Regions from separate parts of the Homo sapiens genome. Here region 1 is linked to region 2. The links come from fine-mapping of genetic effects on gene expression. A gene starts in region 2. The other region holds a variant in brackets. All regions are shown on one strand. Distances are between the middles of the regions. Region 1 overlaps SMAP1 (small ArfGAP 1). Region 2 holds the start of SMAP1 (small ArfGAP 1).

Region 1 (2,915 bases), 140 kb after region 2:
CTTTTCCTCACTATTATTTCAAACTGGTTTCTCGCCTACATTAGTTACTGCTCTCTTTAATCAGGTTTTTTTTTTTTCTGTTAAAACACAAAGTCTAATTTAGGAGAAAATAGAACCATTTATTTCTAGTGCAGGCTGTTTCCCTGTGTGTGTGTGTGTGTGTGTGTGTGTGTGTGTGTGTGTACACACTTACTGGTTTCTTGCATATATGCCTTGGTGGAGTATTCTTAGTTTAAAATAGATTGTTTTCATTGGCATAGAGTCCCTAAAGTATGTATTGTGATATTTTTTAATGTAAAATAATGTCTCTTGTGCAGATATTTGCCATTAGCTTCTTGACGTTTTTAAGAGAAAATCAATTCACAAAGTATATAAAAGTAGAATAAAAATTCCAGGAAGGAAAGTGGAGAAGCAGTGACGCTATAAGAGAAGACCACTGCTTTTGATAATACATACTTACCAGCATCAATACATTTATTTCAAGATACGGCAAGTATTTGGGTATTTAAGGAGATAATGTAGATGAATAATGATTTAAAAAAAATTAGTTGGGAAAGAAATGAAAACAACCATCAAACTTCCTCATTGAACAAACCTTTTATGTTAATACAATTTAAAAAATACATTTGTATTTGATAAATATGTCAGCTAACCTATTAATATAAGCACAAGATAACAATTGCAAATCTGTTGAACTTGAAATTTCAATATAACCATGTAAAAGTGACAACCACTTGTAAATCAAATAAATTATTCTTAGTAAATCATTAAATTAAATGGCTCATTGCCAGATGCTAGATTGATAGGTTATGTTGTTTAACAATCTGACAGATACATTTACACACCCACCAAGCTCTCATTGTAATTTAAGCTAAATAAACCTTTCATATGATGCGTGAATGCATTTTAGAACAAGATATTTTCAATAAATAATACTTTTATAAAAATCATAGAAACATGGTATAGGTGAGTAAATGCAGCAGATGTCTCACAGAACATTTGTATAAGTAGTTTTGGAAGATTCTTTATATTTTCCTCAAAT[C/T]TTTACATTTCTAGCTTAAAGCTAGATCTTGAAGATTAGTTTGATGATGATCTTTTGTTTATAGATTTTTAAAGGAAATAATAGATTCAGTATCACTATATATTAGGTTTAGGAAGCATTTTAGTGTTGCTTCCCTGTTGCCCAAGTTTTATTATGGTATAGAATGCTAGTTGCTGTTAACAACTCCTCATCTTTCTTTAGCTAGGAGGCATTAAAAAAGAAAAAATCTTTTTCCTCTGAAGCAGGAAAGATTACAGTGTAGTACCCCTCAGTAAAAATAAATAATCTGTCTTGTTTGGTAAATGTATAGGGTTTCTTATTCTTTAACCAAGAAATTGGTAAATGTATGTTTCCTCCAAGTGTATTTTCTTTCTTTTCTTTTTCTTGAGATAGGGTCTTTCTGTGGGGCTCAGGCATGCGTAGAACTCCTGAGCTCAAAGGATCCTTCTGTCTCAGCCTTCTGCACCTGACTAGCTGGGACTGCAGGCATACACCAATGTGCCTGTCTCTCCTAGTAGGTTTTTGATAGTCTCTTTCTTCTGCTTCCCCATAATATTCAAACCATATACATTTGTAAGAAGTCACAAAATCCATGTAAGCAAGAAGAAAAAATTAATGTTACCACTTAGAAAAAATGATCACTAATGCCTTGGCATTCATCCTTCCTAATTGTTTCCCATGGAAATATATATATCCACATGGGATCATATTATACATATTATTTTGTAACCTACTTTGTCCCTTTGTCATTTGACAATATTTTGACTGACTTTTCTTTGTTTTTTTCTTTTTTAGATACAGGGTCTCACTATTTCATTCAGGCTGGAGGGCAGTGGTGTGATCATAGCTCACTGTAGCCTCAAACTGGGCCCAAGGGAATCCTCCTGTCTCAGTCTTCCAAGTAGCTAGGACTACAGGAGCATGCCATCATGTCTGGCTAATTTTTTAAAAAGTTTCTTAAAGTTGAGGTCTCATTGTGTTGACCAGGCCGGTCTTGAACTCCTGGCCTCAAGTCAGGCATAAGCCACTGCACCTGGCTCCCCTTTTTTTATTGATACATATACTGTGCCTTTCTGTCTTTACTAACATTCCATCAAATGGATGTAGCATAATTTACCTTCCACTGAGCACAGTAAGACTCTACTTAAAGTTTATCTCTCTTTGGGATAATGAAAATCTGTATACATAATCTGTGTACAACTGTGTAATAACTTCTTACAATCAATTTTTAAAACTGGAGTTGCTGAGTCAAAGGATAATAGGCTTTTAAAAGCCTTTTGAAAAATATTAACAAACTACTAAAAGATGCAGATAGAAGAACCTATACTTGATTACAAGACTTTAATTTGATTCTCAACTTTACTGTTTACTAGATGTCTAACTACTCTGTGCCTCAGTTTCTTCATATGTAAATCTTTTTGGACATTTCTGAGTACCTACTACATGCCAAGTGCTATTTTTGGCATTAGGGATAGAGTGGCCAGGAGGCTGTTTTGTTTCTTGTAGGATGTTCAGCAGCATCTTACCAGTCCTAACAGTAAAAAGTGTCTTCAGAGACATTGTTAAATGCCCCCTGGGAAGCATAATCACTTCTCACTTGAGAATTGTTGATTCAAAATCTAGATCCATGAAACTGGGTCTCGATAGAAGAATGAAAACCTGCCTGTTACGCGATCCTCGGGAGGGCACCGGTGAGATCAGTCAAGGCTTCCTTTGAATATAGTTGTCCTTCAGTACCCGTGGGAGATTTGCTCCAGGACCCCACCCCTGCTGACACACACACACACACACATACCAAAATCTGTGGATATTCAAGTCCCTTATTTAAAATGACATGATTTGCATATAACTTATTGCACATCCTCCCATATAC
Region 2 (2,915 bases):
TTCCCAAGTCTTCCATAACCCTATCATAGTTTACTTATGCAGCCTTATCTCAAAAGTAGTACCTTTTGTTCCAGTCTGTTTTCCAAGGTACTTCAGGTCTTCATGCTTTTGTGCAAGCTGCTCTTTCTTAATATCTCCCTCCCCAGTCCCCATCTAAATCCAGCGTATCTTCAGGACAAGGCTCGTAAGTTCTACCTCCCACATAATGTTTTTTTCTGTTCATTGGAACTCACCAATATCTCCCTAGTAGTTATTTGTCAGAGCTATGTAGTATAAGCTCTAATTTGTTTAATTACTGAGCATCTTCATTGCCATATCCATTCAATTTAATTCCAGAAACATTTTTGAGCCCCTGTGCCAAGAACAGGGCTAGGTAGCAATGAGGGTCACTTTTATGCAGGGACAGGGGCTAGAAATTGGCCTTACTAAGAAGTGTAAGACCGACTCTTGCTCATTGCCTTTCTTAGCATCTGCTTCATCGCAGGCAAGGACTGTGTTTATTTGGCTTGCATAAGCCCCATATTAGAACTTCCTCATAATATACAACATGCCAAATCATCGAAACTGCGTCACCCGGAGTTCAAACTTCATGAGCCTGGATTAGGGTCTGGGTTCCAATGAAAAGTGTTTTCTTTAGTTCTCTTTCTCTTGCATTAAGGATCACTATTTACACAGCTTCTTGTTAAAGTATCACCGCCTAGTACTTGGGTTCCTGGTCACACTTTCCCCCTTATGGAAGGGCTTACTGCCAGGTCTTTCAGACTCTGGAGCCAGACTGCTTTGGATTTAAATCTCAACTCCTCCACTAGTAGTTCTGTAATCTGGTCAGGTTACTTAACTCCTCTATGCCTCACTTTCCTCCCCTGTGTAATGAGGATAACAATATCATAAGGTTGGGGAAAGGGTTAAATGAGCTAACAGTTCGTTTAACAGAGTAATCACTCAATGAAATGTTATCCCCTAATACATGTCACTACTAGATTATTTCTCGCCCTTAAAATGTAAGAGACCGTTTTTCCTCTTTTCTTCCATCCGTGTCTCCAGCTTCTAAACTGCAGGCGAATAAACCTCGAATGAGTAAATGAACCCACCCAGTCGCTAGTTATTTCTGCATTTCCAATGTTGTGCCAGCAAGAGCAAAGGCAAATGGGCAAGTCAAAGTAGGCTTCTTGTAAAAGGTCTTCCATTACTGGGTTTTACTAGAGGCCCTTGCGGACCATCACATCTCAAAAGGGGGGAAAGCTCGTATGAGGCAGTGCCAGCTACCTTTCGGGAATCACCTTGGGCAGAAGGCCTTTTTGCAAAAAGACTCGGCAGCCCGGGCCCCGTAGGTTCGGCGCATGCGCAGCGCGCTCGGCGCCCGGGTTCCTTCCTCCGCGCCACCCGGAAGCCTCGGCGCGACCCAGTCCCCCTCCCCCTCCCCTCGCCGGCTAGGGTGGTGCGTGCCGGCAGGCCGGTCAAGGAGGCGGGACACGTCGGCGCTACCACCGCCACCGCCGCCGCCGCCCCTCCTCCCGTTCCAGCTGCCGCTGCCGCTTCCTGGGCTGAGTCCGCCCGCGGTCCCGGCGGCGCCAGGTGCGTTCACTCTGCCCGGCTCCAGCCAGCGTCCGCCGCCGCCGTAGCTGCCCCAGGCTCCCCGCCCCGCTGCCGAGATGGCGACGCGCTCCTGTCGGGAGAAGGCTCAGAAGCTGAACGAGCAGCACCAGCTCATCCTATCCAAGCTTCTGAGGGAGGAGGACAACAAGTACTGCGCCGACTGCGAGGCCAAAGGTAGCTTGGACGTCGTCGCTGCCCACGGTCGGGGCCTCTTGCGACCGGTGACCTTCCCGCCGCTGCGGCGCTCGGGGCCCGAGCGGACGCCTCGGCTTCGCTGGCCGGCTCCTGCCCTGACTGGAGGGCGGGTGGCTGAGCGGGCGGGCGCGGGGCTCCTGTCGACCCTCAAGTCCGCCAGAGGCGGCGGCGAGGTCAGGCCCGCAGGCCCTGTCAGTGGCCCCAGCCTCCCCTCCTCCCAGACACGGGTTTGAGCAGGTGCCAGGGTAGCGATGCTCGGACCCTCCACAGGGCTGGGGGTAGGAGCGAGGCTGGGAGCGCGGAACCGGGCACGGGTCTGGGCAGAGCTTAGGGTTAGAGAGTTGCCCTCCTAGCTCTGCTCATAGCTATCTCTGTGGGTGGGGCCGCGCTTAGGTCTGGATCCCCTCCTCTACCCTCCGGTGTGACCACGTCCTCCCACTCCGGGCTCGGATTCTTGGTCTCCTAGATGGAGCCCTACCTGCCTGCCCACCTGACAGCTTTTGTACAAGGCTTTTATCTCTGCTTCCTGAAAAAGAGTATGGTGGTCTTTTTCGGTGGGTTTGAGTTTTACGGAATAAATTAATTGGAGAAAGGTCTTTATTAGTAGTAGTATTGTTTTTTAGTCTGGTTATTAGCCAGAATGAAGAGGAATTTCATTACATGAGTCTCTTGGAGGACGGTGGGTTTGTATTTCTGAAGATTTTAGTAATTAGGTTTTCTCTGACCAGCTAGTTTGGGAGAATATGTGGACACTGATTTGTGTACCTCATAAATGCTGAAGGTTCATTTTAAAGATCTAGAGATGGAAAAAACCTAATTTTAGTTTTTTCGGTTGGAGGGCTTCTGCCTCAGCCTTTGAAACAGATATACTATTTTTAGCTGCTATGTTTTGTGTTTGGAGATCTGATTTATGTTTAATGTCTTGTAAGTAATCTCAAGGGAAATATTTCTTTTTTTTTTAAAGAAATGTCTTGTGTAGTTAAGAAAAGATCGTGTATATTTTTAATTGGTTTATTTCGTTATTGGGTGAGAAATAGGGTAGTTCTCTAAAGCAGGAGACAGTCTCTTTGGGGAATGTCCTTTAAGATTTCTGTGTTATTTGACTTAGACTTTTCCTGAAGCTT

Evidence for each region. PIP is the estimated chance that this variant, and not a neighbour inherited with it, causes the effect. A credible set is the group of variants that fine-mapping cannot tell apart.
Region 1: its variant is the best candidate, but not a certain one, in a credible set for the expression of SMAP1 in whole blood (INTERVAL, PIP 0.53).

The regions. Positions count from the first base shown.
Region 1 is chr6:70,808,759-70,811,673 of GRCh38, forward strand. The region is part of intron 6 of SMAP1 (small ArfGAP 1); the gene reads left to right. Among named protein-coding and RNA genes, the nearest start is that of SMAP1, 140 kb to the left of the region's middle. The variant C/T (reference allele first, on the strand shown) is at 1,043.
Region 2 is chr6:70,666,372-70,669,286 of GRCh38, forward strand. It overlaps SMAP1 (small ArfGAP 1), which reads left to right and starts at 1,512. Exons shown (of 11, transcript NM_001044305.3): 1 at 1,512-1,770. The coding sequence starts at 1,653. RefSeq lists silencers at 1,294-1,693, 1,844-2,073, 2,194-2,253.